4 linked regions of the Homo sapiens genome follow. The protein of the gene in region 1 interacts with the protein of each later gene in a pairwise test. Each region holds a gene or a part of one and is shown in the gene's direction. Other genes may lie near its edges. The genes, in order: CALM3, CAMK2D, SCN2A and IQCB1.

The links.
Region 2: the proteins of CALM3 (region 1) and CAMK2D interact in binary tests that used the Homo sapiens proteins (3 or more experiments, as listed by UniProt).
Region 3: the proteins of CALM3 (region 1) and SCN2A interact in binary tests that used the Homo sapiens proteins (3 or more experiments, as listed by UniProt).
Region 4: the proteins of CALM3 (region 1) and IQCB1 interact in binary tests that used the Homo sapiens proteins (3 or more experiments, as listed by UniProt).

The regions. Positions count from the first base shown.
Region 1 is NC_000019.10:46,603,796-46,611,847, forward strand, and holds the end of CALM3 (calmodulin-3), read left to right. Parts: intron 1-2,031; coding exon 2,032-2,062; intron 2,063-4,028; exon of another isoform or gene 4,029-4,401; coding exon 4,402-4,545; exon of another isoform or gene 4,546-4,686; coding exon 4,687-4,793; exon of another isoform or gene 4,794-5,050; coding exon 5,051-5,186; exon of another isoform or gene 5,187-5,210; intron 5,211-5,302; exon of another isoform or gene 5,303-5,329; coding exon 5,330-5,358; 3' UTR 5,359-6,987; downstream 6,988-8,052. UniProt on the Homo sapiens protein: Calmodulin acts as part of a calcium signal transduction pathway by mediating the control of a large number of enzymes, ion channels, aquaporins and other proteins through calcium-binding. Calcium-binding is required for the activation of calmodulin.
Region 2 is NC_000004.12:113,499,364-113,507,462, reverse strand, and holds part of CAMK2D (calcium/calmodulin-dependent protein kinase type II subunit delta), read left to right. Parts: intron 1-2,427; coding exon 2,428-2,487; intron 2,488-4,485; coding exon 4,486-4,527; intron 4,528-6,951; coding exon 6,952-7,000; intron 7,001-8,099. UniProt on the Homo sapiens protein: Calcium/calmodulin-dependent protein kinase involved in the regulation of Ca(2+) homeostatis and excitation-contraction coupling (ECC) in heart by targeting ion channels, transporters and accessory proteins involved in Ca(2+) influx into the myocyte, Ca(2+) release from the sarcoplasmic reticulum (SR), SR Ca(2+) uptake and Na(+) and K(+) channel transport.
Region 3 is NC_000002.12:165,234,902-165,242,970, forward strand, and holds the start of SCN2A (sodium channel protein type 2 subunit alpha), read left to right. Parts: upstream 1-4,512; 5' UTR 4,513-4,739; intron 4,740-6,158; exon of another isoform or gene 6,159-6,213; intron 6,214-8,069. UniProt on the Homo sapiens protein: Mediates the voltage-dependent sodium ion permeability of excitable membranes.
Region 4 is NC_000003.12:121,789,211-121,797,309, reverse strand, and holds part of IQCB1 (IQ calmodulin-binding motif-containing protein 1), read left to right. Parts: intron 1-82; coding exon 83-192; intron 193-1,743; coding exon 1,744-1,853; intron 1,854-7,094; coding exon 7,095-7,237; intron 7,238-8,099. UniProt on the Homo sapiens protein: Involved in ciliogenesis. The function in an early step in cilia formation depends on its association with CEP290/NPHP6.

The DNA.
Region 1 (8,052 bases):
GGCCCTCCATGCAGAGCCACGCCTATTTGCAGCAACCCTGTGACAGAACTGAACATGGCAGTGCCTCATCTGCATCTTCCAGTCTTTTGGTGGAGACTGGCAAACGGTGGCCTTCAGAGCCGCTCGGGGCAGTCTGCAGCCTGTCACAGCCTCCTCGCCCCCACCCCCAGCCCCTTACAGTGCTGCCCAAAGGTCCGGGGAGCTGGACTTCTTGCAGGGCGGAACAGTGGGCTGGGAAGGCCCTGACCTGGCTCGCTTTTTCCATTCTAGGCCAGGGGAAAGAATGAAAAGCAGATGGGATGGCAGCCACCTCCCCACACTGCTGCCCTCCTCTCTGTTCTTTCCCTGACCCTCCCTGGGCATTGCCTGGTCTCGGTAACCAGAAGCCCATCCTCCCTTCTCACTTTCCCTAAGCCTCTTCCTCAGGTGTCAGGACCTAAGGGATGGCTCCAGGCTTTTTTGTCCATGGTGGGAGGTGGGGGGCAGGTGGATCAAGAGGCTCATGGGCCTGGGGCTACCAGGTTGGCATTTAGAAGCCCAACCACCCTGTCTTTTTTGAAGGCAATGCAGAAGAATCTTCATTTGGCCTCCCCACCTCCCCTTTACACTTTGGACTTTTCCAGAATGTGCATGTGTGCCGTTTTCTCCCTTCCTCTTTCCCCCTCCCTAAGCCCTCTCCCCTCTGTGATCATCATTTTGATTACCCCTCCCATTCTGCCTATTTGGGGCTTGCAAGTTCTTCTTCCGTTAGGTTTTTTTTTTTTTTTTCTAACTTTTTTAGATCAGTGATTGTTAATATTTGGGACGGGGATGGGGGTAGGGGAGGCAGGCAGTGGTTTGTTCCTAGCTTCTGGAACCTCTCCGTAGAATACTGCAAATTCACATAATAGTCTGCTTCTATTTCTGAGGCTCTCAGACTCGAGACTAGAACATGCTATAGACTTGGAGCCCCTTTCCCTGATTGTGAAAGGAAGGGGAACAGACCCACCATGGTCCCGGGATGGTGGTGCCTTCTTCACAGCATCAACAAAAACCAGGGAAAATGTGTCTTTTGGCTGCTAAAGCTAAATGTTGGGATTCAGCCTCCCCAACCCCCCAGCCCCGCTCCTGCCCCATAGGATCACTATGCCTGGCTGATGCCCAGCACACCAGTGCAGGAGAAGCCAGTCCCCGCATCTCCTCCCCACCCCCAAACCCCGCATGCAGCAAGGGCTGCCTGCCACCCACTGGCCAGTCCCCAGAGTGCCCAAGCTGGAAAGGGTTAAAAACTGCAGTGCAAGCCAGCTTCAGTCCTCTGCTGCTGCCCGCTGCAGCCCTCTCCCTGACGTTTGTCCCTTCTGCCCAAAAGAAACAAAACAGAATGGCCCTGTGCCCTCACTGTGCGCAGGGGGTGGAGCGCCTGCCTCCAGCCTGACCAGAGTTCTTTAGGTGCTTGAGCAACTCGGGCCGCCGGTTAGGAGAATTTTTGCCACTTGGGTGGACTCTGCCTGAGCCAACCGCCTCCAAATAGGTGACACAGAAACTAGCAGAGATAGCCCCAGACATCGTCCCTCTGCCCTACCCAAGGACTGGCCTGCTTCAGTTTGGAGCCTTCTAGAGCTTCTTGATGAGGCCTCCAGGGCAATCGTTCCCTTCACTCGGCCTCTGGGGCTCTCACTGATGAGATGCAAACCTGTGCCAGGCCTCACCAGCGCTGCTGGTTTGGGGCTGGGGCAGGCTTTTCTCCCGCCCCTGTGGCTCCCACATGCTGAGTTGAGATTGGAAGCCCGTGGGTCTGGGCAGCTTCATCGGGCCGTGCGTCCAGCAGGCCTGAGTGTCCAGCCCACCCTGGTACCCAGCTTTCTGAATCACCAGACTTTATCATCAGGCGCTGGCTCTGCCTCAGACCCTGACTCTGGCATGCTCCTCCCTGGCCCGGCGGGAATGGCACGTGGAGCTGGCCTCACTGGGGCCGAGGGTCTGGGCTGAGTGAGGAAGATGCGTCCGTGCTGTCCGGCCTGGTGACTGACTTTCCCCTTCATGCTTTTACAGGCTGACCAGCTGACTGAGGAGCAGATTGCAGGTGAGTCTGCTATCCCCCTCATCTTAGCTCAGGAAAGCCTCCACATCCCCAGCCAAATCTTAGCCACTGAGGAGTGACATCTGATGGGTGAACCTGTGTATCCCTTGTGTCACCTAACACTATGCCTTGTGCCTAGAATGCTGATAAATGTGTGTAAGAGCACACCAGTGCCCCAATGACACGAAGCCCCATGGCCCTGAGACAGGCCTTTACCAGACACCAAAGGCTGTGTTCCTCTCCTGGGCCTGGGTCATCTAGGGGCTTGATATCAGTGGCTGCAGGACGAGCCCAACTCTCTCTCCCAGCTTCAGCCAGGTTGGCTTAGAAGGTGAGCTCCCTGCCTCCCTGTGGGGCCTGCAGAGCTCCTGTCCCACTTTAGGAGCCGCCCAGGAGCTGGCTCGTCACTCCCACCTCTGCGCTTGCCTGCGCTTTGCACTTCCTTTCGCATGTGCCTGCGCCTGCCTGTTCTGCTGGCGGAAGTGCCTCCCCAGTGCTTTGCATGGGCAGCTCCTTCCCGTCCCTTAGCTCAGATGTCCCCTCGGGGAGGCCTTCCCTGACCCCCATCTCAAGTACACAGCCTTCCTTTACTCTCCTTCACATCACTTTATTTTCTTCATAACCTTTCTCGCTGTCTGAAATTATTTTCTTATGTCTTCACCTGTTGTATCTCCTGTTACTAGATGTGAGTTCCATTGAGTTTGGGACTTGGTTTTGTTGGTCCCTGCTATAGCCTTAATGCCTGCCTAGAACGTAGTAGGTCCTCCGCAAACTTTTGCTGGCTAAACAAACATCTCTCTCTCAGCAAGCTAGAAGAAATCCCTGGATCCCATCTAATTCATTTTTCTAACCCCTCCAAAACCCCAGAAGGGTCAGCTACAGGAACTATTGTGTAATTACAGATCCGTGCCTGCCTACCCGCCCATACTGAGCTGCCCGAGGACAGAGAGCAACTCTTGGTTTATCTCCATAGCCAGGGGCCAGCACACAGTAGACCAGAGTAGCGATCCAGAGAATGGGCCTCTGCTCCCCACCAGCTACCCAGCCCCCAGCTCTGCTGTCAGGTTCAACCGGCTGTGTAACAAGTACTAAAGGCCCAGCTTCTGCGGTGGGAGGCAGGAACGGACTTGCCTTCTCTCCTTTCTCCCCTCAACCCGCATCACAGAGTCACCTTTGCAGCTTCAAAATTTTGGCCCTGGGTGGCTATGGAGACCCCTGAGGAAAGCCAGAAGATGGCCTGGTTTAGTGATCATGAGCTCGGGGTGCCCCATGACCCACTCACTACCTGCCCTCCCCAAGAACAACAAGGCCTCAGCACAGGGAGGTGCCAGCCTCCCCAAAGAGACTCTTGCCATGTCCCCAGGGCCCAGAGGCTCAGGGCCACAGCTTCCCAGCTGTGCATGTCCCTCCCAATGCACCTGCCACCCATCTCCCAACTCTGGCCTTGTGCAACATAAACGGTCTGCTTTTCACCCTGTCCCCATTAGCAAACTGTCCACCGCCTCACCCCAGCCCACACCCTCTGGGAATAGGCTGCCGGACATCTGTTTTTGGAGGGCTTGGGGGTAGAGGAGCACCAGGTGCCAAAATGGGCCCAGTGGGAGGGCAAGAGCCATGTGCTTTTCTCCCTGCCCCTGATGCGGCCCCAGCTGTGGCCTTCCCACTCAGCACTGCTAGCTCCTCATCCTCCTGGCTTGGCAGCCGTCCCCTCGCTTTCCATCCCCCCATCAACCCCACGCACTGTCCGTCAGCCATGTTCTGCTGCCGACCACCCCCACGCTCACCACACGCAGTGGCTCAGCTCCTTTGGAAGCTGGTAGCACCCACGGCAAGGAACAGGGCTGCCAGTCAGAAGGGAGTGGATGCCTGCATTTCCTCTTCAGGCCGGCCAGAGGCATTCTGCAGCCTCCCCTCCTCGTCCCAGCCAGCCAACCCTGGCTAACACACTCAGACAAAGAATCCTTTCGGCTCTCATTCACTCCATGACTTTGGTTCATTTCATCATTTCAAGGGAGAAGTCAAAGCCAGGGACCAAACAGAAATGTAGAATCATCTAAGGACAGCTGTCAGACCATTTTCCCCACTGTCTTCACTGGCTGGCCAGAAAAATAGCTTCACCTAGCACAGTGTTGATGTTCAATAACTGTTGAATGAAGGTTGGAAGGGCTTTGCCCTGAGCACTGAGGAGAGAGAGCTGGTTGCGTGGGACTTGAAGTCTGTCTCAGTTTCTTTAGGTGGGACTGATGCCCTTGGCCTTCCTCCAGGGAAGGCATCCAGCATCCAGAGGTAAGGATTCTCCTGTGGACCTTGTGACCTCTGACTCCTCCCCCTTCTTCCCCCAGAGTTCAAGGAGGCCTTCTCCCTCTTTGACAAGGATGGAGATGGCACTATCACCACCAAGGAGTTGGGGACAGTGATGAGATCCCTGGGACAGAACCCCACTGAAGCAGAGCTGCAGGATATGATCAATGAGGTGGATGCAGATGGTGAGCCCCACAGAGCGCGTGGGCAGCCCTGCTCCTGGTCACCCCGAGTGACTGCAGGGAGCCTCTCTCAGGGTGATGGATGAGCCCGTGTCTCTCAGGGCCCAGGCCAAGAGCATTCTCCATCCTTTCCCCACCTTCCAGGGAACGGGACCATTGACTTCCCGGAGTTCCTGACCATGATGGCCAGAAAGATGAAGGACACAGACAGTGAGGAGGAGATCCGAGAGGCGTTCCGTGTCTTTGACAAGGTAAGCAGCCCTCTCCAGGGGCGGCTCTGAGACTGACGCCAGCCTTCAGGCAGACAGGCGGAACTGGAGCCACGGAGCTACCACTTCCAGGAGGTCCGGGTCCCGGTGCCAGCCTCATTGCCAACCTGCTCTGCCACCTCAGGCAGCCTCCCTCACTGTGCTCACTGCTGAGGGATGGTGATGACAGCCACCCCTCTCACTGCCTCTCTCCCCACCGGGAGAAGTGCCCAGTGAAAGGCTTTATCCCCAACCCCCAGGATGGGAATGGCTACATCAGCGCCGCAGAGCTGCGTCACGTAATGACGAACCTGGGGGAGAAGCTGACCGATGAGGAGGTGGATGAGATGATCAGGGAGGCTGACATCGATGGAGATGGCCAGGTCAATTATGAAGGTGAGTCAAGGCCAGGCTTGATCTCTGGAACAAGAAGAGAATCGCAGCTTCAGGAACAAGCCCCCAGATCCCTCTTGTTGGGGAGGGCCGCTCGCCACTTAGCCTGCCCGCCTGACCTCCTCTCTCTCTGCTTCACTCCACAGAGTTTGTACAGATGATGACTGCAAAGTGAAGGCCCCCCGGGCAGCTGGCGATGCCCGTTCTCTTGATCTCTCTCTTCTCGCGCGCGCACTCTCTCTTCAACACTCCCCTGCGTACCCCGGTTCTAGCAAACACCAATTGATTGACTGAGAATCTGATAAAGCAACAAAAGATTTGTCCCAAGCTGCATGATTGCTCTTTCTCCTTCTTCCCTGAGTCTCTCTCCATGCCCCTCATCTCTTCCTTTTGCCCTCGCCTCTTCCATCCATGTCTTCCAAGGCCTGATGCATTCATAAGTTGAAGCCCTCCCCAGATCCCCTTGGGGAGCCTCTGCCCTCCTCCAGCCCGGATGGCTCTCCTCCATTTTGGTTTGTTTCCTCTTGTTTGTCATCTTATTTTGGGTGCTGGGGTGGCTGCCAGCCCTGTCCCGGGACCTGCTGGGAGGGACAAGAGGCCCTCCCCCAGGCAGAAGAGCATGCCCTTTGCCGTTGCATGCAACCAGCCCTGTGATTCCACGTGCAGATCCCAGCAGCCTGTTGGGGCAGGGGTGCCAAGAGAGGCATTCCAGAAGGACTGAGGGGGCGTTGAGGAATTGTGGCGTTGACTGGATGTGGCCCAGGAGGGGGTCGAGGGGGCCAACTCACAGAAGGGGACTGACAGTGGGCAACACTCACATCCCACTGGCTGCTGTTCTGAAACCATCTGATTGGCTTTCTGAGGTTTGGCTGGGTGGGGACTGCTCATTTGGCCACTCTGCAAATTGGACTTGCCCGCGTTCCTGAAGCGCTCTCGAGCTGTTCTGTAAATACCTGGTGCTAACATCCCATGCCGCTCCCTCCTCACGATGCACCCACCGCCCTGAGGGCCCGTCCTAGGAATGGATGTGGGGATGGTCGCTTTGTAATGTGCTGGTTCTCTTTTTTTTTCTTTCCCCTCTATGGCCCTTAAGACTTTCATTTTGTTCAGAACCATGCTGGGCTAGCTAAAGGGTGGGGAGAGGGAAGATGGGCCCCACCACGCTCTCAAGAGAACGCACCTGCAATAAAACAGTCTTGTCGGCCAGCTGCCCAGGGGACGGCAGCTACAGCAGCCTCTGCGTCCTGGTCCGCCAGCACCTCCCGCTTCTCCGTGGTGACTTGGCGCCGCTTCCTCACATCTGTGCTCCGTGCCCTCTTCCCTGCCTCTTCCCTCGCCCACCTGCCTGCCCCCATACTCCCCCAGCGGAGAGCATGATCCGTGCCCTTGCTTCTGACTTTCGCCTCTGGGACAAGTAAGTCAATGTGGGCAGTTCAGTCGTCTGGGTTTTTTCCCCTTTTCTGTTCATTTCATCTGGCTCCCCCCACCACCTCCCCACCCCACCCCCCACCCCCTGCTTCCCCTCACTGCCCAGGTCGATCAAGTGGCTTTTCCTGGGACCTGCCCAGCTTTGAGAATCTCTTCTCATCCACCCTCTGGCACCCAGCCTCTGAGGGAAGGAGGGATGGGGCATAGTGGGAGACCCAGCCAAGAGCTGAGGGTAAGGGCAGGTAGGCGTGAGGCTGTGGACATTTTCGGAATGTTTTGGTTTTGTTTTTTTTAAACCGGGCAATATTGTGTTCAGTTCAAGCTGTGAAGAAAAATATATATCAATGTTTTCCAATAAAATACAGTGACTACCTGATTTGGCTCCTCTCCTCCTGTCTCAGTTTCTGGCCTGCCCCCCTCCAACACACATACACACCAACCCCAGCACTGACTCCTTTGGCCCAGAGGTGGAAGAGCCTCTCCTCAAAGCTGGCTCTGAAGCTGTGTCCAGTCAGTGCAGCCCAGTGGACGCCTCTGAACCACAGTTCTGATCCCAGCTAGATCGCAGGGTCATCAACGGCAGGGTCCTGTCCTAGAGATAGTCGCACAAATGGACTGAAAGGCGGGGACTGAGAAGGCTCCTCTGAGGCAGGCCCATCATGCCATGGGAGCACACAGAGAAGGGGTCAGCCCAGTCAGGTGGCAGGACTGAGCTGAGACCTACCTGAAAGATGGGCAGTCCCCTAGCCGGGTAGGGGAAGGACGGAAGGGCATTCCAGTTCGGGGGGACGACATGTATGGAAGCCCTGAGGCAAGAGAAGCCCAGACATCAAGGAACTGAAGGAAATCCAGCGAGACTGGGTGAGAGCCCCGAGCAGCTTGGAGCCCAGCCGGGTGAAGAGAGGAAGGCAGGGGCAGGCCCTGCAGTGGGTGAGCCTCTTGATGCTTTGGGGAGAGGGGTGGCATTCACTGCTTTAGTCTCACAGGCAGCCAAAACATGCCAAGTTTGGATCTACAGTGGTGAGAAAGGCATGGTCCTGAGCTCACAGGGAGGGCACGGGACTCAGTGTTGGTTTGAAGATCTGAAACAAAAAGCCCAAAACAATTGCAAACCACACAAGGCAGAGTACAAACCACTATGCGGTCACAGCCAAATTACAAACCACAGAAAGCTCAACTTTCTCGTGGCAAGTGGGGATGTGAGGAAGAAGCCGCCTCAACAGCGCCCAGTGGCACATTCCTGTAATCCTCCTACTTTGAGAGGCTGAGGCAGGAGGATTGCTTGATGCCAAGAGTTTGAGACCAGCCTGGGCAACATAGCAAGACCCTCCCATTCCAGTGGGGCTATAGTGGAGGGATGGGTCAGAATCCTCAAGGGCTCTTCTCATTCTCCCTCGGGGGAATGGGGAATGAGAGGTTAATAAGCATTGTCTTTAACTTC
Region 2 (8,099 bases), on another chromosome or scaffold:
ACCCCATCTCTACTAAAAAAAAAAACAAACAAACAAAAAACAGAAATTAGCCAAGTGTGGTGGCCGTACCTGTAATCCCAGCTACTGGGGAGGCTGAGGCGGGAGAATCACTTGAACCCAGAAGGCAGAGGTTTCAGTGAGCCGAGATCGCGCCATGGCACTCCAGCCTGGGCAACAAGAGCGAAACTCCATCTCAAAGAAAAAAAAAAAAGACATTTGTGGTTGAACCTATACTTATATTTGACTCTTTGAAAAGAACGTCTTCTTGCCTTTTGCTTAGAAATTATCCTATTATTTTTCAATAAATTAATATTATAAATAACTGCAAAAGATTTTCCATAGGAAAAAAATCATTTAGTTAGTCTTTACATTAACAAAAAAGCTTTAACTGCATATTAAACATGACCAAAAGTGTGGTTGAGGCACATATTCATTTAACTCATGTTTCCCATACCTAACAATAAAGAATGGCTCACCCAGACAGAATGGCCTTCATCTGGAAGAGATGATGGTGTGTGTATGCTGTGTATCTGTGTGTGAATGTGTGTAGGTGTGTGTGTGTGGGGGGGGGAACATGTGCACTTGTACAGATAAGTTTGTGTGCACAGGTGTGCAAGTGGGACATTTTCACTAAAATAAAGCAGTTCTTGGCAACCACATCCTAGAAAAAAGTCAAGTATCATATCCCAAAATAGAAATAAAAGTATCTCAGAATATTTCTTTCATTTGCATTCACTGATAAAAACTAAATATAGCATATTAAATACATGTGGTGCTTTAACCATAAGTGCCCCTGTTCATTTGACAGGAAGCCGGCTATGTTTTGCCTAGCATGTTTCCCGAATAGGAAATTATTCGTGTGTGCATCCCTCCCCTTTTCTCACGTACCCTGTACTAACATAAATACTGAATTTTGATCCCTCTTTAATAGACTTTTTACCTCTTATCTCTTTGGCTCTTGCACAAATATCATGTTAAATTCTGTGCACTTTGATTTAAAGGAAAAAAAAGGTTTTAACTATCTGCAGAATATAGATTGATGACAACATTTATAGAATTTTCCAGTAAAGGAAAGTTTAGAAGTTTTCTCATCCTTTTCTGTGGGTCAAGCAGCACAGTGTCACAACTTATTGTAAAAATAACGATACCAGTAATCAGACAAAAGGGAATGAAAAGAAAGGAAAAATATTACATATTTAAATTAATTTATGTTACTTTCTATCTTCCTCTCAATACTAGTTTTGACAGGATATATAGTTATCAGATATAGACTTCCAGAAAACCCGAACAATTAAACTGGTGTCACCACTTGAAATGCTCATTTGATACTCATTTATTTTATATAGTATATGTTTCTCTTTACATCATTATCTATATTTATATTAAAATCATGGAGGTATATTCCTTTAGAAAATAATAAATAAAATACCTAGATAATATAGTATAAGAAAATGAACGTTACCTTACATTTTTGTTTGAGAACCGTAATGTAAGTTGTCATGCATGAGTTTAAAAGAATGTTGATTGATTATTATTTTTCAGTCCTTGATTCTTAGTGCCCCGACTCAGTTGTAGTTTCTGATTGCCACTTGTCTACAAAGAGTCTTCTCTGTGGACCGTTAGAACACTTATTGACCCTCTGAGTTGCTTTTACCACGCAGCTTCCACAGTGGTAATGATATATTCTTTAAAGTCAAATCCAGTTATGTTAAAGCAAGGGAATGATATTACCAAATATATTCTGCAGTGATAGCAGTAGCACATTGACAGAAAATGTAGTATTTTCCTCTTACACAACTGTAAAAATTAAAGTCCTTTTACATTCAACATAAAAAGTTTGATTTCCCCACTAATAATTGAAGATGTAATTTTTAGAGGAGATCTACACTTGTCATTTTTAAAAGCTATTGTGACACCAGCGTTTTCTCAGAAGATCTAAATTTTCATTGGATAATTTAATTGCTCCTAAGCAAAGTAATGCTGGATCCCCAGAGAAAGATGTATGTGTGTGTGTGACTTCAGGCTCAAGAATAAAATGAGGGAAGAAAGAAATATATTTATAACTGTGAACAATTGGAAGCTTGGAAACAGAATCCAACTTGAACAGTATGAGAATGGTTATATTAATTTCATACTCTGAAACCTGATTGGAGCTCCACTGAAGCAGCTCTTTGTTTGCTAAGGTGGCATAGCAACAGCAGACACGTCTGTTTTCTCATTGCACCATCACGGACATGGTCCAGCCTGTGTGTGACCATCGGAGACTAGCGATCATCATTCCTGTCAGTCATCACCATGTCTTTCACGTTCATCTTCAGTGGCTCTTTATCTTCATGTCTACATCTCTATGTAGACATGCTGCATCTAGAGACATTGGCTACCAAGGGGTTTAAGGCATCTCTGTTTCTATTTTCTGCATACCCACAGATAAACAACAAAGCCAACGTGGTAACCAGCCCCAAAGAAAATATTCCTACCCCAGCGCTGGTATACCTGGACTCTTTGTAACCCTTCTTAAGTTCTTTACATTTTTTTTTTTTTGTGGTTTCTCTCATTTGCTTTCACTATATAGATACATATATATAAATATTTTATTTCGTTGGGTGTTGGGTTTTGTTTTTTTTTTTTTTTGCTTTCTATGATATGACCAAGTTCATTTCTTTTGGTTTTTTTTGGTTAAGTTAGTTGTCAAGCAGTGTGTTCTAACATGAGATTATCTCATTTCGTTGTTGAACATTGTACTGATAGCTGTGGTCTCTGTAGTTGGAATTACTGCATGCTGCATTCAAAATACAGCGCTTTGGTTGCTCTTAGCTCTTCTGATGATGATAGTTCTAGATTATGCAAACAATGGTTTCTTCTTTTCATGATGCAAATGCTTACATCAAGGAGAGCTAATGGGATTGTTGCTAGACAACATGAAAGTAGACCTTATTCAGAGTTCTCGTTTCCCTCTTATTAAAACACAACAGGGCTTTGTAAGACTTCACTTTCTGAGATAAAGAGGCACTGGATAATTTAGAGCTTTCTGTTTATTATGTTTTAAATTAAATTTTCACTGTTTCACTTTAATCCAAAGAATGAAACTGCAAAGAATAGAGGTTTGAATTATCAGTGGAAACCAGTTATGTCTATCTCAATCAAATCCACACAATTAACGACTAAATTAGTCTAACACTTTGAGATGGTATTATGTTAAAATTCAGAATTTGAATACTGTCATTCAGTGCTGAGTTCCATAACATTTTCCCTAAACTGTTTCATATTTTGATTTATGATTTTCAGAAATGTTTTTCAATTATTTGCTCTTCTCATACTGTTATTTTAAATAAATTTAAAAATGTTAAGGAATCATTTCACTTGAGTTAACCATGAGGCTCCATTTAAAAACATTTAAAAGGAGGACACATCAAAATAACAGGTTATCTACTAGTAAAAAACAATGTTGATCACAGCTGTAGCCAAGGGAAAGGGAGAATGGAAGCAGGAGATATGTCTCTCAATATTACAGCAGTGTAAACTGTAGTGGTGGGGGAGTGTCCATGATTGAGAACTCCCAGTGGGTTGCAGTACCTCCCCATTGCCAAGATATCACACAATGAAAGTGCCAAGCATGTCACTGATGTATGCATATTGAATCTTTTTTTACATCAGTTATTTGAATGTTATTCTCCACTTGGGAATATTTCTTTGCTTTCTGATAGAAAACAATAGAAAACCCATACTTTCTTCATAAAAAAGCATGACTTTATAGCCAGATATCCTGTATATATAGTCCATAAAGTAGAAGTTTTTTAGATATGAATTAATACAGGATTTAATAGCAGTATGCCTCAAATTATAGTGATTACATGATTAGTTCTAGATTAGTAGATTAGTTCTAGTTCATGATTAGTCCCTTAAACTTTTTAAATGTTCCTTAAAATTTTTTTATGGTCTTTTGAAATGGATTCTTTAGTATAGTCTTTTTTTAAGTGTTGTCCAATGGCTCTAGATTTTATAAGGGTATTCAGTTACGTATTAATTAATGACACCATAATCGAGTTTCAAACCAATATAACTGAAAAAATATCTTCTCTGAGAATTTGAAATCATCTCAGAGTTTTAGCTCCAGTGTCCTTGGCCAGTTCTCTATGGGACAGACGTTCACAGGCCACTCATTAAAGAAGAAAGGAAAGCATAGGATTAAGTGAAACAGTGAGTGCCTCTTCAGATCTCTAAATATCAAAGCCTTGTTTGAATGCTGATCAAGAATAAGGTCTTTTGCATGCTGCTTCTGGGTAGGGAGGTTCCTATCTCATGGCCTCGCCAGGGAGATCTTTCATCAGAGATATTGTCAGCTGCAACTCTGACAGCAGTTAACATCGCTTTAGCTCTTGTCACTATTTCATTTTGTCAGCTGGCTCACTCTGCTCTGTCCTTCACACTAGAAAGAATGTACTTACCAATGCGAACTGTTTCTTTCTCTATTTTGTTCTCACTCAGGAGCCCCAAACTACTGTAATCCACAACCCTGATGGAAACAAGGTATTCAGAAAGAATCAACATCATCTTGCTTTAACAAGACTATACATCTCATCAAATATTCAAAAAAATTAATTCGTTATCTAAAAATAGGAAAGAAAATTCTAACCATTTTCTACCACACTTCCTTTTGGGCCTAATTTATCTAGAACTATGGACATACTTCTTGCAAATAAAAATGAATGACATCTTGAAAGAGAAACTAATGTTACCATGAGTCAATAAAAGTCAGGCTAAACATGAATGAAGTCTTTATGTCAAGATGACTGTGTGTCTTAAGCAATTCCATCTGGTCATTTTTTTCCCCATGACTTTGTGCTTTGTACTGTAGATATATTGTGCATGATATTTTAGAATTTCTGGCAATATTCCATTGTCTTCAAAAATATCAACTTGACTTTATAGGTTTTTTTTTTTGTTTAGTGTTACTTTTGAGTTTTATTCTATTCTGTTGTCAGAGTGGTGTTTTTTTTTTTTTTGGTTTTTGGTTTCTTAATTCCTTGTTGGTGATGATGTTGTTATTGTTGTTATTGTTGTTGTTGTTGTTGTTGTTTGGCATGAATTTGAGGTGAATCAAGGAGTTTCACTTTTTGTGAAATATGTTTGTTGTTGAGTAATATATATTCCAGTAACAGGGGTTTAACTACTTAGGTTGAAAGAAGACTAAATGTTTCCTATACATTGTAAATTATTTGTATAGCATGTTAACTAAATAACAGCACTAGCATACATGTCTATAGGATGAAAGACCTTTTCTGAATGTATTCCATGTGTCCAATTTCTTACTTTTCATATATTATTATATCTCTAAGGGAAGAAAAAATACTAAACTTTTCTCAAATATTAGATATAGTCATGCATCTTCTCCATACTCTTATCAATGATGTTTAAGACTTAGAAAGCACATTTTATCTTAAGACTCAGAAAACACATTTCCTCTCTGGTTTAACATTTAATTGATCAATATTAAAACCATTAAAGTAAAAAACATGAAGTGTTATGTTCTTTAATATGAGATTTATTTTATAGTCATGACACTGCAAATGGTCTAGGTCCCGAAAAGCCTTGAGGTAGTCAGGACCATCACATATGAGAACAATTTTTTTAATAGCATTAGCCAATGAAACGCCAAGCATAACAGCTGGAATGGACACTTCAGTAGTTCTAGCTATATCATTTGTAAGAGTTGCTGCATGATATTTCTTGCTGACATGAATTAGTTTAATTTTACAGTGCATGGGTTTACCTTCATTTTCAGCTTACATTTGAATACTAGGTCACATTAAGAAATGCATGAAGATTCCTTTCTTTGGTTTTGTGTGTATGGAGACTCTGGGTACACCTTTAATTAGTTTTTCCCTTGGTTTAAATATTGTATATGATATTTATATAAATTGATCACTTTTTTGAATACTGAATCTCTAAAATGATACTGGCTGGTGTTTACATTATTTTCCAGAATCTGTTTTCCATTACTGAGCTATTGATTGGAAGTTTGTTTCCAGTTATTTTTGGCTCTAGCATTTAATCATTCCAAGTAGAAAACTATGTCTTTCTTATGAATATTGCAAAATTTATTTGCTAGAAAATATTTTACTCATACATTATTAATGAGCACATTTATCACACCATTTTAAGAAATGTATCTTAATTCTGGCAGTTACAGTGTACTTTTAAGTGTGCTTAACAATCTTCCACTTAATTTGTAGTTTTACAAAGAAAGAGCTTTGTCTTTTTATTATGGAGTAGGTTTCTTATCAATAACAGCCAGTTGCTATTTTTGAAAAGAATGAAAAAAGTCTAATTGTCCTTGAAAGTAAATTATTCATTATAATTCCATTGTGCTGAGGACAAACATGAAAATTCTTCTCAAAAGTACTTTCAGCATATCTCAGCTTAACCCCCTTAGCTTCTTCATTAAATGATGCGGTGAAATGCTTTCTCTCCCTATAAAGGTGTAAGGCATACAGGCCTTAACATAGTGCCTGACGCAAAGAAGGTACTCTTTATTGATTAATTAATTGGGAATAGAAATTTTTTCTATTTTAAGTATCAAATTCATTCGGCTAACATATTCAATTGCTTGTAGACACACAGAAAAAGCAAACCTTATAGGGCACTGTAACACAAAACACATCCTTACACAGTTTCTAAAATAAACTGCATACTTCCGCTGCTTCTACAAATCACCTGGATTTATACAGCTTCGGAGATTAGGCAACCAGAGTACTCCGTTTGAAATGTTTGCAGCATCAGACATTTTATTTCTGTTAAAAACCACTTAATGTGTTTGTCCATTTGCATGTCAGCATATGCACATAGCCTGCTGAAGAATTTTGCATGATATGTATGTCACTAGCCAATTTTTAAGGAGGAAATCAAGCTATTCATTGCGTGCAACCTAAAAATGTGTTTTCTTCTCATCAGGAGTCAACTGAGAGTTCAAATACAACAATTGAGGATGAAGATGTGAAAGGTATGATTTAACCAGAAATGGAAAATCCTACCTCAGAGCTTCACATATATATATGAAAAAAAAAGTGCTTCAAATAACTAATAAGTTTAGGAAGTAGGCCTATCCTAAAGCACAAAAATATTTTATTTATGAGTAAAAAATATTTTTATAAGTACATAATTATTTCAACAATATGTTACTTTTGTCATTTTTCCTACATATTCTTTTATATATTTTGAACTGTAGACATGTAGCATATTCTAGCACATTGCAGTAATGACAACTAATAATGAGTTACTAGTTATAGGAACATAACAAATTGTAAATTTGTCAGTCAAAAAGTAATATAAAATGTATACACATTGGGTACATTCATAAAACCTATCTGGAAAACAATTTATATTCAAGGATACAGTATAAAAATAACTTTTTAACTTTTAGTCATCTCAAATAATATCAGTAGAATTTTCTATTTGGCCGCCTTTTTATCCTAGCTTTTTGTGTACATTCCAAAGGTATTCTTGACCTCCATTCACTTTGGTTGCCAAGGTTCTTTTAGCTACATGTATGAGTCATTGGTAGTGTTTCTACAGACATCTTCTCAGTGCCCCTGCACACACATACTGAACACACATTTGCAGTTAGGTCACCTCCTTTGGCCACATCACTGTTTTAGAAGTATTACTTTTGTATCAATTGCATTTGCAGTTTTATGTTGTTTTTGTAATTCATTATATATAACTACAGTCTCTATAGACCAGTTGTCTAGAAGATATTCTGACAAACAGCGGTAACAGTAGGATATTTGAAACAGAAATATTAAAGGAAAAGAAATATAAATTGGGAGCAATGATCCATAAATTAATTAAACCTCATCTGAAAAGATTACTGACCTAATAGTATCACCATAAGCTTTAATTCTAAAGGTAGTGTTAATACAATAAAGTCTTGTAAAGTTGTATTCATATTTTAGAATAAAGGATTTGGAAATTCTCAGGTCAAGGAGACGTGGGGTCAATTTAGGAAATAAAAATGGCTGTAGATCACAACTTGGCAGTCAGCTCTGCTGACTTTTTCCTTTTTGTTTGAATAGAACAGCTGATGCTGTTAAAGTGTACTC
Region 3 (8,069 bases), on another chromosome or scaffold:
AATAAAGGTAGACCTACTGATGAGAAATGTCAGGGCAACCTTTGTGTATTTCAGTTACCCTCAGCAAGGTGCTACCAGCTAGCATTAGTGTATTTCTGGTGTTGGTAACAGGATCATGTGAGCCTTGTAGATGAGAACTCCTTGTTGCTCAGGGGATCATGGAATGCTGCTCTCTTTCAGACAGCCATCTTCGGGGAAGAGAAGGGTCTCTGGCAGAGCTCTATGGGTCCTGCACTTCTCTTTCACCTCTCTGCCTTGTTCTTTCACTCATTAATTTCTTGACAATTTATTTTCCTTAATAACTCTAGTTCCTTCTGTTTATCTTCTTCTGTCAATCCTTGCATCCATTGCAAATCCATCACCTGCTCTGAAATACCACACTGAAGGGAGGTACTCCTAAAGACCTTCCTTCTTTTCCACTCTTGTTTTACCCTTGGCTTACACAACTGTTGAACAACTGGAGCTGAGGACAAAAAGCACATAAATTCCAAAGGTCAACGGAATCACTTCTTCATAGTTTACATCTCCTGTGTCTTAAGTAGAACTCAAATAGAACATAAGCATTGAGAACAGAGGTCTGAGTTGGAGGTCAAGACATCGTTTACTAGCTGAGGGACTTTGGCTTTATTTTTCTCATCTCTAAGAGGGAAAAGATAAAAATCTACTTCACAGACCTGTTGCTGGGAATAATGAGATAATTTATGTACAGTACTTAGCACATTGCTTGGCACATAAAAAGTGCTCAATAAATGTTATATATTTATAACATTATTTGTAACACCTCGTCTTTCAAGGAATTATGGGAATTATTCTGTTTGTCAGACTTTGTTTATGGAAATTATGTCCTTTTGATGGCCCAATTTTTCTTTTCCTTTTCTTCATCTTTTGATAACATACTATTAAATGTCAACAATTCATACTAATTGGAACTAGTGTAATAAGCTGTCCTCCTCATCAGTATTAGCAGTCTTTGAACATGGCATAAAAATATGCCCATTTTGGCTTACAGGTCCTTGATTCTCTAATGATAATAGTGCAGGAAAAACATTAGATATGGAGTTCAACTTTTTAAAACTGTCTTGATGTTGGTGACCAATAATTTAAAAGAGGTTAGCATATTTTAAGGTGACTAAAACTGTACAAATGAAATTGCCATTTAAAAATGTCTGTTCATTTGCTTTTCTCCAATGCAGATATTTTAAATAAGAAGAAGTGAGGCAAGAAAAATGTAAACAAATATTAGGTATAAACTAGGAACTTAGTCTTTTATTTTCTGAATCAGATGGATGATATTTAAAAGTCTGGGTGAATGATAAATGGTAGAAAAAAATTAAATAACAGTCAATATGCACAACTTAATGGAGGTAAAATAAGACTTACTTACTTTTATCTCTATAAATTAAAATGATTTTGAAAATCAAGCTGCCAAAATAAAGGTGTGGATTTTATCATTAAAGCAATGCCCAAGAGACATGTTATTGAGAAATTATGTGGCATTGGTTTGTTGTTACTAGCGAAATGAATGCCTAACTGAAGTTGATTTCATAAAGATTTAGTGTGTGTATGTACTTGTGTGTCTGTGTGTATATATGTATATATATATTTGTATACACACGCACACATGTCTACCATGTGACATGTTGCTATTTTTACAACTTATTTTAAAACAGCTAAAATTTTCTAGATGAGATTAAACATTTTCCATAAAAATAAAATTACAATAGTTACCTCAAAGTTTGTTTATCCTGGAAAAAAAAGTGCTAACATAAGAGTTGTTCAATAATATTTTACCAAAATTTTGTCAGAACTCCATTAAAAACAATTCAAGACCACAGTGGTCTAATTTCAACACTGGCATCATTAACCTAACATATTTATGGAATATTCACTATATGTTCTGTTTTCTGCTTAAGTATATGAATTAAACATAGTTTAAATAGTTTACTCAAAGAACATGCCATTTGCTTCATTGATTTCACACTCTCTGACGTATGTATTAATAAGAACATAGGAATCCACACACAGAAATAATAGCATTCCTATGGTGCATTAATAAAAATGTATGAATTTTCTATGTCTAGGACATGTATTCATTATTTGGGTGGGTCTTATATTTCAGGTACTGTTCTGTGAACCACGTTTATGGAAGTGATCAAAACAGGCAAACATCTCTGCCTTCATGGAATTTACATTTTTCTTGGAGGAGGCAGACAATAGACAAAATATTTAGTATGTCAGCTAAATACTAAAGGGAAAAACCAGAGGAGGGGATAGTGTGTGGTATTGAGGGTCAAGGCCAGTCTCAGTAAGAAGGCAGCTGTGAGCTGTGACAAGAATGAGGGAAGTGAGCCATACGGAGCCCATGTAAGAGATTTCCAGGCAAAGAGATTAAAAGGTGGACGCCTCCTAAGGAATGGACATACCTGCCATGTTTGAGTAATGAGAAAGAAGATAAAATGGCTAAAGTAGAGTGAGTGAGGGCAAGAATAACATCAGAGAAGTAAAGGAGTCTAGATTGTGAGCATTGTGAACACTGGGGAAGGCATAGACTATTCACAAGGAGATGGGTAGCTACTAAAAAGTTTTGAGAAGAAGAGTATGTGATATGATTTAGGGTTGAAAAGGATTGCTCCAGTTTCTGTGTCATATAACCCTATGGTCTTGAAACTGGGATATTGTATCCCTGGGGGCATGAGGTGGCGTGCCTAGAGGTACACAAAATCCCAGGATCAGTTAGTCACATCTTCCCTAAGGATAAAATTTACCCTCAAGACTATGGGGAAAAATGATTACTGTGTTAAGAAAAACATTTAAATTTTATATAAATTATTGTAAAATTCCCGTGATTTTAAAAATAAAGTATCAATAATATTTCATATTTGTGGCATCTTAGGCTTTAATCTTACAGGTTTAAGCTTCTTGGCCATCAGGAGTAATTTGTTGAAATTGCAAATTAATTTGGCAAAATTATCATAATTATGTGCCCTGAGAGCTTATGTATCTTATGATAGTGCAGGAAACTTGTGAGATGAAATAGTTGAGTGTATACATTAAAATAATTTGATCTACCAAGTCACTTTAATTATTTATTTGTTCAGTGTTAAAAATATATTTTCATAACCAAACTAATACATCTTAATAATGTTGTAGAAATGGAAGTAAGGTAAAATTTAAGAAACTGGGTTTGTTCTTCTGACTTGCTTATTAATACTGGATAAGTTACTGAAGAGTGGGCTTTGGTTTCCTCGTCTATTTAATAGTGTGGGAACAACCTTATGTTAAAGCAATCTATTCAGTATAACTTTAGCACACAGAAAATAAAATATTATGAATCCAAAGAAAGTGTAGCTTGCAATCATGTATTTTATTAAATGTATTTATCAGCATTTTGGCTTCTGATGGACATGTGTATATACATATTTTGTGGATAAAAAAATTACTTAACTATTTTTATATTAGATACTATCAATTATTCTGGCTGATCTGGGGACTTTTAATGGTAAATTTTATATCAAATCTGACAAAGACAGTATTTCAGACCCGTTTAAGACCTAGAACTCACCATGAGTTCTAAAATTGGTTCTCAGCACCATGGACAGCGTTACTGCAATAGGAAATTAAAGATCGATTTGGCCCCAAATTAAAATGGTGTTGTAAAAAAGTGGGAGAAAAAAAATGCCTATCCTTTTACTTCAAATTTTAAAAAAATGATCCTGGCCTTCACAACTGTTCATAAGAAGAATAATTAATTAAACAAACATATATTGAGAACATCATATGCTCAGTAAAACTTTGATTCTATAAATGGTGTCATTTACCAAATGGATTCTTTTGACAATTTAATTTTCTCTTATCTCTCTAAGAAGATGTAACTACACACTATAGTATACTACTACAATTATCAAATTTCATGTTGCATGTAACTTGTCGTCTGTATTTTTGTAGTTAGATTAGATTAACTAAAGATTTTTCAAGTTTGCCTTTAAGTCATTTAATTTTCCTGCCTTATCTTTAACCTTTCAACATTCCTCCAAACAATAGCAACACAAGTGTTATGTGTTAACTTCTCTAGTGACAAAAACTTATACTTCTCCACAAAGAGATGTGATGTTCATTATCAATAAGCTTGACATCTAAAATTGTTTTATAGGAGATACATATTACTTTTTCAGATGGTATATAAAGTTAAATAAATCTTAAGTTTTCAATGATGGGAAAAGCTTCCATTTAGTTTAAACATAATGTAAAGAAATTTGAATCCCCAAAATAGAATTATAATTCTAAAAATTCATACTATAATTCTTCTTAAATGTTTAAATTACAGTTAATTAAAGTAGTTGATTTCAAATAGAGTGGAATTATGGGCTGTACATCATTTAATTTTATGTGCTGACTGCTACATAGCCAAAGGAACGTGAATTAAGATGGTTCCACTTTTGACCAGGAGATGGAGCTGTCATGTAAGATGCTGCCTTTATTTATTTATTTTTCTAATTTAGCATGCTGTTTTCTAACAGACATTGGGTACCATCGAATGACTGTCAGAACAGAAAGCTAAGGCAAAGGAGGGAGGATGCTGTGGTCATCCTTTCTTGTTTTTTTCTTCTTTAATGAGGATAGAGCACATGTGAGATTTTACTTTCTACTCCAGTAAAAATTCTGAAGAATTGCATTGGAGACTGTTATATTCAACACATACGTGGATTCTGTGTTATGATTTACATTTTTCTTTATTTCAGGTAAGCCAGCATGATTCTATTTTTGACTTATCCACGGATTGTTATCTATGTTAAGAATGACATTTAATATAAGATGTGTGCTTTGTTAGCTTGTATTCAGATCTAAGAGATTCAAAAGCTCTAATTCTAGCTGTTGTGCAATTTAAAATCTTCCTAGGCTGAAATGAGCTCTGACTATGACATACCGTGTTTTATTATTTCTTTGGCTTTCTAGCTGTTGGTCTCTGTCTCTGGCTGTATTTGTTTACCTTTTAAAGGTAAAGCTTTCAAAGTGAAGGATGGGTTTTCCTTTCACAAGGGAAATACTGCTCCTTAATGCAGTGAACAAATTGTAGAGATATAATGAAGCAGATTAACATGGCAGTGGCTCTGCCAAAGCTCAGGGCTGAGCCTTCTGATTGCAGCCTCAGAGGCAAGCCAATATTCTGAGTCCAAAGGCCTTTTGAACGATTTCTGCTGGCTATGATGGTACAGATTGTTTATGTCTTTATTTTTACCTCTTAGAAATAATACGTAAGTCATTTCTCCCACATGAATCAAGATTTATGTAATGTGTTTAATAGACTTGGAATGAGACTATAGACCCTCCCTCCTCCCCCAGTATGGATGTGAGGAGTATGCTGAACACAAATTAATTGCCATGAAAATTGATTTTTTCTGTATTTTATTGGATTTGGGATAATAGAACCGTGGCCATTTTAAATAGTTGATATTATAGAAGGTGCTCACATTTTAAATTATTTTAGGTCATGTGACATTATCTGTGTTAAAGAGTGGAATGACTCAGGAGGTGGAAGTTGCATGCAACAGCCTTGCTTCTCTCTGCTGCTTCTCGTGATTTCCCTTAAATCCTTGCTTGATTATTATTAGAATAACAGGAATAAAGACATATAGAAATCCTATATTTAAAAACCACTGATTTTCATTTAGAGAAATTTAAAGAGATTTTACAAATATTTTAAAAATAGTTTTGTAAGATTGTTTTTAAATGCCTCACTTCTTTCTCCTGTGGAAAGAGCTGTGTGTGTGTGTGTGTGTGTGTGTGTGTGTGTGTGATGGTGGAGGTGGCAGGCGGTGGAGGTGCATCAGGATGTTTTTATCTCAGTCATTGTTTTCCTGTAAAGAGGTAGTTTTGCCATGTCAGAGGTTGTGAAAGCTATGGGGAATGATTTTATAAAATGGTTTGGACAAACCATGAAAAAAACATGTTTTTTAAATGTGTGGAATCTATAGAGTTTGTAGTTCTACATGGCTCCATATACATGGAGATTTTTAGAATTACAGATATTTAACCATTTATCCCCATTATCATTTAAAGAAAAGCAATTGTAATTGAGAGATAAGGTGGATTTCCCAGAGTCACGTACTAAATTACAATAAGGCAAGGCTAGAACAGTGATTGACAGTTCCACATCTTCCATAGCAGTAACACAATTCACCTCTAGTGTGAACATATCAGGATGGCATAGACCAGGTATGATGATATTCACTGTGCGTGTGTGTGTGTGTGTGTGTGTGCATGTGTGTGTGTGTTTGGTTATATTCTGTAAAATAGAGTTTCTTTCAGTATACTGTTGCTCAATGGCATATTATATGCAGTGCTCAATTTTCTTAGGTTTCTTGTCAAAGCATCCAAGAAAACTGAATGACAACTATGGAAACTCTGTTTCTTAGTATGCCTTTTTCATTATTAGGTGGTGTATACTCTTCTACCCTATGCTCATGAATGATGTGGATGGCCACATGGCTTTCCCTCCTACCTAATAGAAAAGATTGTACATATAGGTTAATCTATTGACAACTATAAGAATATCATCTCATGTCCAAGCCTTTCCTCCTTTGTTCACTTACTAGGCACAGGCTTTACCCTACTTCTTCAATATCTTGAGAAAAGAAAGGGATTAAAATGTGTCATGTCTACATATATTTGTGGAATACCACGTACCAACCAAGTGTCCATGGTAGAGATAAAGAAATAATTAGTCAAGGAGTTTACCTCAGGGAGGTTAACATGCAAATATACATGTGCAGATACCACTATATCTCAAAATAAGGAATGAAGAAAGATGAGAAAGTGAATGGGACAGGAATATCAGCACCTATCTTGTGCCAGGCACCATGTTACATCCTGGGATTCAGAACAAAACAATAATGTTAATTTCTGTCCATGGGGGGCTCAGAGGAAAAGATTTTAGGAGGATGTGACAGTTAAATTAGATCTTTAAGAGTGAGTTGGATATAAATAAAGAAAAACAGAAAGTTGCTTATTCCAGGTACATAGGTGAGGCAAGTAAATACAAGAAAATGGAGAACTATAGGCATCGTATAGGGAAACTGTAGAGAAAGGTAAATAACCCAATCTGTTTGAAGCTTTTGTTGTCGGTGTTGTTGTTGCAGTTGTTATTTTTTTTCCCCTGGGGCAGTAAAAGTAAGGATAATGAATTTGGCTTTTGGTGTTATGCATTTGACATACTGACACATACTCATACACTGGGGTGTTTTATAAGGAGCTGAACATGTTATATCCATGTATCAGATTAGTGGTTAAGGCTGAATGTATAGATCTGCATGCAGTTGTGGGACAAAATTAGGTCATACATAATTAAACATTAATGGGGAACAAAAGAGAAGTGAAGATGACTGGGGGCATAATCTTAAGATTAGGAGAGTAAAAAAGTGTAGAAAACTATTATTAAATTGTGTGAAAATAATGTGAGAAGTTGACGGAATAACAATATCATAGGAGGCCAAGCAGGTAAATTGAATATCAAAATAGGGATCAGAAACAATAGAAAACCCATAAAGGGGTTGGTTCATAAGAGGATAGAGTAAAGATGATGGATTTAGTTATCATTATTAGGTCATAAATTAATTTTAAGAGAAGAGGTTTAGTTGAATGGCAGAGACAGGGGCTCTGAGGACTAAATTGGACATGAGAAATCTGGGGAGTATATTTAAGTTTTAAGAAGTTTGCCAGGGAAAGGTAGGAGAGATAACATTTTATACCTGGAGAAAGAAGGTACTGTTGAGGGAAATTTAACTTTAGTGCAGATTAGAAAAACCTAAGCCCTTTGTAGAGTAAGGTATGAAGTCAGTAGAGAGAAAATTGAGGAAAGAAGAAACAAAAGTACACCAAGGTCGTGGAAGAGACAGAAGGAAGGTTTGAAAATGCTTTTCCTTGACACAGGAAGAAAGGGTGGTTGATGATAATGAGCAAAGCTGGTGTAACTCACTTTGGGTGGCCTGTTTTTCGAAATTAAATCCTTGTTTGTAAGATGAAGTATCTCCTCTGATTAAATCAGTTTGTTCCTCAGTAAAGGCTATTGGTGG
Region 4 (8,099 bases), on another chromosome or scaffold:
GCTTCAAATTAATACTGATTAGATAACAAAATCATATTTTATTATTATAATAATAGTTGTACCTTTTGCTATTCCATTTCAGGACTCAGACGTCTACTAAGTAAACAGGAAACTGGGACTGAATTCAGTCAAGAACTTAGACAGCTTGTTGGCCTTTTAAGCCCAATGGTCTATCAGGAAGTAGAAGAGCAGGTATTAAGTTACAAAAAAAAAAAATTGCATGATATTTGCTGACTATATTAAACCTTAGTTTTCCTTAAATGTTCCTCACTTTCTTTCTCTTAAGATTTCAAGCAAAATACCCCCAAAACAGAAATATCTTTAAATTTTTTACTCAGGAGGTTGAGGCAGGAGGATTGCTTGAGTCCAGGAATTGGAGACTGCCCTATGATCACACCCATGAGTAGCCACTGCACCCCAGCCTGGTCAAAATAGCAAAACCCCATCTTTAAAATATAATGTTACAAAATTGTATCTCTCCGCCATTCAATCTGCTGGAAAACATAATTTCAATCTCCCATTTACATCTGTTTATAAATACTGCCACATCAGTTTCATTCATCATTTCTCATGAAAGCCCCATCTCTGATGTTTATCTTCTTTTATCTATAAGCTATTTAAACTTTTAAAACTGTTTTTCCAAAAAAAATCTCTAATTGTAGCAAACTGTATTTATGGTTACCTATGGCTACCCTTCTTGTTCTTTGAGATACAACAATAATGCCTTTTCCTTTGTGTAAGAAATGGTATTAATAAAATTATTTAGAAATTTGAGGCAGCAAGTTATTGATTATTTCATCATACTTCCTCTAGCATACTCAAAATGATGGCTCTAAATAGCCCATTCAACAGGAAGAGGCATATTGCTTTCTGATTTCCAGATAAAGACTTAAATATGGAAAACATCTAAAATGACTAAAGATATTTTTTAATTTAAAAGGAAAAGGGGACATTGTATATCCAAAATCCAAAACCAAAAAGACAATAAATTTAAAAATACAAGCAGAAACCATGAAAATAAGTCCAGTAAGGCAGGAGAATGGGTTGGGGGAGGCTGGAAGGAAGAGTGCAGAAGAAGGGAATTCCTTTTTTCTGTATATATGAACCATCGTGAGTTTAGATTAATCTCAAAACTATGCATATGCTCAAATTCATATTGATTAGGTAACAAAATCATAAAACTATATTTTATTATTAATAGTTGTACCCTTTGCCATTCCATTTGAGGACTCAGAAGTCTATTAAGTAAACAGGAGACTGGGACAGAATTCAGTCAAGAACTCAGACAGCTCACTGACCTTTTAAGCCCAATGGTCTATCAGGAGAATAGCATATCAAAAGCTTACAGAACTAAACAGAGATTCGAGCAACCATCCACAATGGTCAACAGAGCTTATAGTTTGAACCTAACTAGGTTGATTGCCTATTAAGTAAAAACATTAACATGTTAGCTCAAAAAAGATTATGAAAGGTCAGGCGGACTATGAAATCTTTGAAAAGGAAATGGAAGTGAGATTATTCTGGGAGAATTTGGAGCTAACTAGACTATATCTTGAGTATGTTCTAGAAATTGCCTTACCAAGCCTAACATACCTCCTTTGGGAGGTAAGGTTTAATATTCTTACCCATCTTGTTAGAGCTAGAGATTAATATTTGCCCTAACCTGATACTTTAAGAGGTAAACTTTTTTTTTTTTTTAAAGACCTTCCTAGAGATATCTCTAAATTATTTTCGGCATTTCAGAAACTACATCAAGCAGCATGCTTGATTCAAGCCTATTGGAAGGGTTTTCAGACAAGAAAGAGATTAAAGAAGCTTCCATCTGCTGTGATTGCTTTGCAGAGGAGTTTCAGGTAAAAAAATTTGGTGAGGGGATTGATGATCATAGAATCTTACTAGAGTACAGTTGAATTGAAATTTAGGTGATTTTTTTTTAATTTCCTAGTATGTTTCTTGTTATCTTTTCATTTTTTTTCCATACGTTTCTGGGTACCAACACTCCAGTAACCAGATGCACTTTCAAAGCAAAGGATGTAAGACAGGAATCTGATGTGTCAAATATGCAATCCTATCCACTTAATAAGATATTTGGGGAGGGGCCAAGCCTACAAAGGGAGCCAATGATAGTTATATTATTAAACCCTCTAAACCAACAGTTATCATAATTTCGTGTGTATAATTATAACAATAACATGTATGCGTATAAGAGTTTAAGTCTGTTAACCTGATTTTCCTGAATAAATATGGCATGGATGGATATCTTCATTGAATTATGATATAGTTCGGCATTTATTTCAAGTAGACTGAAAAGGAAATACTGAAGACATAGCCCACTTTCTGCAATGACTTAACCAATCCAGATCCTCCAAGGTCACAGAACAAGAAAAAATAACTTAGCTTCTAGGTAATTTATGGTAAAGAAGATCTGTTTCAGAGGTGACTTTTTCATGCAGCCTAACTTAAAGCCAAGCTTTAGTTTGCTAAAATGAAACTGGCATTTTACAGAAGTTAATTCTTTAAAGAAAACTGAAACTATTCTTTTAATAACTGCAGATGCATTTCTCAGTTATAAAAACATTTAAAAATAGCTCTGGGGTTCAAAATACTATGTAGTCACAGAGTTGAAGACATTGAAATCACTCTAGCTAACTGTGTCTCTTAGTGGGTATCCTATTAATTGATGAACGTTTTCTTCAGGGAAGAATTAAAGATGGATTTTAAATATTATTGGGCATGAATATTGTTGGTAGCAAAGAAAAGAATTAATTTTTAAATATATATCAAATGCCTAGTATATGATATATGTACTAGGCATTTAACAGATTCGAGTTTGTATCTCACTTGAGCAGCTTACTGGTTGAGTGAACTTGGACAATCCCCCACCTCTCTCAGCCTCAAACTTCCAATCTATAAAATGAGAATAATAGTTTATACACTTGTATGATCAAGATAATGTAAAATTTGAGATAATACAAAGTTTTTAGCATATTATCTGGCACTTAAAAAATGATAGAAGGAAAAATGCATATGGCACATTTTCTGTCCTTGAAAATTTACAAATCTAGGTAAACAAATAGATGCATTAAATAGGTAGTACTAATGAGAAGCAAGTATTATCCATCTATTATTACTCAAAGTTTATTGCCTATCTTACAAGCTGTTTTTTTTTTAAAAGCATTTCTGTGGTTAGATAAATTTGGGAAATATTGAGTACTTTTTGAGTCACAGTGTATATTTTTCTACCCAAAGCATCTGAGGTGCTCTTGGTATTGCCTCTGTGGTGAATTCAGATAGAGTAGGTATTACTTATGGATTCCACCTGCTATCATCCTTAGTTACCTGTCATCTTAAATTTAAGGGTACCCTTATACATGGATTCAGAGCATTAATGTTTAGTCCCACAAGAGTTCCCAAATTTGCTCATATACTCTCTCTTTCAATATTAAAATCTCTATTTAAAAGTAGCCCAGGATTACAGATTTTTTTCTACTTAGAAGTGTATCTATGGAATCTAATATTCCATTATTTTAAAATAGAAATTCCATTGCTTTCTTTATGTAACCAGAAGAGTTATAAATACTTCCATTAAAAAGATAAGCTGTGAAGCAAAAATTATTTAAGTCTCACATTTTGTGTTTGTTGCCTTTCCAGTATTTTTGCATTTGAGGTTCCAGAATATACTGAAATGCGGTTCTAACCTGTTGGATTCTATTTAATTTTTTAATTTTCAGTTTTCTCCAGTTCAGCACCTTCGCTCTTCTATTAGTTGTAACAGTTCATGCAAATGTCTCTTGCTTCCTTTGTAGCTTGGTTTTTTTTCAAAGGTTATTTCTGTCTTTTTGTGCTCAGGACTTATCTCAGTAATTTCCCCTTCCCATGGTTTTGGGAGAGAGACTGCCCACTGGTCACACTTATGGGTCCAGGTTGATTAGTGTTCTTTAGATTCAGCAAGAGGCATTCTTTTATAGTCACGCCCTTGCTAATGCACTTTCATAGTGGTTTCTTTTTTATTTAGTCATTTCTCGTATTCAGAAACTTTGTCTCTTAAGTACTCTTATTCAGCAAGGTTTTCTGAAGCGGCTAACAGCTGCTCTAGTTATCTTAGAGAAACCTCACAATTTACCTACCTCTATCATAGTGCTGATTTTTAAGTGTTTTAATTACATTTGTTGATTTCATCTTGAAACTGAGCTTCTTAAATGCAGATAGCATCTTTTTTCTCTCTCTCCCTCTGAGGCACAGTGTCTTGGCAGCAGAAAATTTGGTCAACTCCCACTTTAATGGTAAAAATTCAGATTGATTAAATGTAAATCATGGAATTTACTTATTTCAGAATATGACATCTGATCAGTCATTTCATCTTCAGAAGTGTAGTACAGATGCCAGGTGGTCCAGTGCCTACTAATTCTTACAAAGAAACCAGTTGGAAGAATAATTGTTTGATTTTTGAGTGATTAGAGAAACTCTGAACAAAATAACTCGATGTTATTTAATAATAAATGGGGGAATTACATTCAAAATCACTTCAGTTCCTAATAAATGTTTTCAGATATGAAAGTAAAACATATGAATCCAATAAGCACACCTGTTTACAATTTAGTCCCTATTTAAATCACCAAATCTCACTTTTTTTTTTTTTTTTTTTTTTGAGACGGAGTCTTGCTCTGTGGCCCAGGCGGGAGTGCAGTGGCGCAATCTCGGCTCACTGCAAGCTCCGCCTCCCGGGTTCACACCATTCTCCTGCCTCAGCCTCCCGAGTAGCTGGGACTACAGGCGCCCGCCATCACGCCCGGCTAATTTTTTTGTTATTTTTTAGTAGAGACGGGGTTTCACCGTGTTAGCCAGGATGGTCTCGATCTCCTGACCTCGTGATCCACCCGCCTCGGCCTCCCAAAGTGCTGGGATTACAAGCGTGAGCCACCGCGCCCGGCCCAAATCTCACTTTTGTCCTGTCTTTCTGGTTTGTACTTTACTTCCACCTTCATGCTCCATAGTCTTTTCATTTTTGCCATATTTGATAGCCTACATGCCTAAATTGTTTCCCAAACCCAGTTTTCTGACAGATTAAATATTCTAGCAGATGCAATTTTAATGATTACTATGTTTTTCATACTAATAGTGTAAAATGGTATTTAAAATATTGATAATGCAGTATTAGACATTATAATCTATAGCCAATTAGAAGTTAGAAACAGAGGTAGTTTTTTGTCGTTGTTGTTGTTTTGAGGCGGAGTCTCACTCTGTCACTCAGGCTAGAGTGCAGTGGCACGATCTTGGCTCACTGCAACCTCCACCTCCCAGGTTCAAGCTCCTGCCTCAGCCTCCCAAGTAGCTGGGACTACAAGTGCACACCATCACACCCAGCTAATTTTTGTATTTTTAGTAGAAATGGGGTTTCGCTATGTTGGCCAGGCTGGTCTCAAACTCCTGACCTCAGGTGATCCACCCACCTTGGCCTCCCAAAGTGCTGGGATTACAGGCGTGAACCACCGCGCCCGGCCACAGAGGTAGTTTTTTAAAAATCAGTTTAAAAGGAGGCTCTGTTTAGGGCCTGCTCTCTTTTACCCTCTATGAATGGGTAAGAGATAAAACATTATTATCTGCATGCTGTATAACCCAGAAGTTTTGAGGTGATGGAGTTCTGTAGAACAGGCAAGTTGCTATCAGCTATTCTTTGGGAAGGGAGAGGCCCTTACCTACTTCATTTCCAGCTTTCACAAAGAGCAAGAGACACTTAGAACTATTCAACTAGCCCTAGATCTTCTCTGGAATCTTTTGACACACATACACTTTTGAGGTCTTCTCTACCCTTGATAATAGGGATAAGAAAGAAGTTTCAAAACAAATAAATTCTCTACTCTGCCCTAAGTAGAAAGCTAGAGAAAATTTAAGTTGTAATTGATGGAAGAATTTATGAGAAACAACCACAGGCACACAAAATTTTATCAAAATCAAAATAAACTATTTTGAGTTGAAAATTCAGTTGAAAAATCATAATAATCCTAACTATACTATAATGAAGTCTGACTATTAAGAGTACAAAGCTATAGCCAAGGTACCACATTTGTTTACAGTTTAATTCTAAGAATACAGTTTAAAAAAAAGATCTAAGAGAAAATGTTCTTGAGGGAGACACATGTCAAATTAAGTCTATAGCGGTAAACTAAGTAGTTTATTCTGCCTTTCTTCTTATCCTCGTTTTCTTTTTCTGTGGGTGTCTGAAAGCATTTTGAGTATATTTACTGTAAACTGACACTTGTAGTCTCCTTACATAGTGATATTGGAAGCAACAAAAACTAGATGGGAATGGCTAAGGAGAAATTTTGGTGAATAAAAGCAGATAATACAGAAATTATAATTATATAAAATGTTTGTGGTCACATGAAAATTTTCATAACCAGTTATGAAAGTAATGTTCAGTTGTCAATAATTGAGAAATAGGCATAAGAAGAAAATAAAGATCAACTGTAATTACATCATGCAGTAAAAATCACTTGAAATTTTAATGTTTTTTATTTTTTTTTTGTGTAAGTAAATGTAAGTTTTTTGACACAATTTTGATGTCATTCTTCTATATCCTGATTTTCCTTTTACCTGACATTAGATCATCAGTATATTCTCATGTCACTAAATATTCTTCGAACATTTTATGTTTTCATAGTTCATAGAATCCCATCCCATCAGGTGAATGAACCAGTATCTGTTTATCCAACTCGCTGTTGTGAGACAAAGTTTGTTTTCAACTTGTTACTGTTGTAATACTGTGGAGAACATTTTTGAACATAAATTTTTACATATATATCTGATTATTTCCTTAAGAAAATTATTTGTAATAGAATTAATTGGTCATCACTTTTAAGGCTTTTTATTTATATATTTCAAATATTTTTCCAGACTTTTAATGCATATATTCAAATATTTCTACAGAAAGATTGCACAACAGCAGCAGATGACAAGCTATTTTATCATACCTTATTAACACTAGAAATTATCTTAAAATTTTTTCTGTTTACATTTATTTGATTACTAGTGAGGTTATGCATTTTTTCATATGATTTATGAAAATTATGTATAACACACTGTTTCCATCACAGATCCAAACGATCAAAGATGTTGCTGGAGATAAATAGGCAGAAGGAAGAAGAGGACCTCAAATTACAATTGCAACTTCAAAGACAGAGAGCCATGAGACTTTCCCGAGAATTGCAGCTGAGTATGCTCGAAATAGTTCATCCAGGTGAGTGGCAGTATCAACTTTATCAATATAAGAATATTTAGGTTATCTTTTAACAAACCAACTTTTCTAGCTACGTGATGATTTTTTTTTAAATTTGGACTTTTGTCCTTTTTCTCTGTTTTTCAGATAAACTTTATTAGATCTTCTGAGTTCAAAAACGGTTACTGTTTTTTCAATTCAGACCTATTAGTTGACGATGAACAATCTCCCCACCAGTTTTTTTTCTTATCCTTCAGATAATTTAGTGAAACATAAAAATGTATGCATAAAGATAGCTGTTAGAGACACAAAGATACTTCTTGAACTGAAACAAGGAGTTGGAATATTATTACATTCTGCCATCAGAGTTTAACTCATTCCTTAGTACAAATGTTGTGACATCTTCTTGCCGCCTTTGACAGACTAAGCTGAAATTAATAAGAAGATGTGGTCTGAGAGGTCTTAGTGGTTTCAATATTATCTTCAAATTATTTTACCTGTCTTCTTGTTATTCAATCCAGGGTCCTTCACTAGCCCTTTATTTCACTTCATCTCCATTAAATATAGATGTTTTCTAGGGTTCCATCCTCACCTTATTCCTGTCATTTTTCTCTTCCTGGGGTATCCATCCATAACTGCAGCTCAACTCTCAGCTGAGTGCTGAGCAGTCTCAAATCTGGTCTCCATCTTCACCTACTCTCCTAAGCTCTTAGAGCAAAATTGCCCAAGATAAATTTTTACAAAAATGAAAGGTTGTATATCTGTACCATCCAGTAGGGTAGCCAGTGGCTAGAGATGGCTATTGAGTATTTGAAATATGGCTAGTGCACTGAAGGACCTGAATTTTAATTTTACTTTATTTTAACCCAAGTAGCCACTTGTG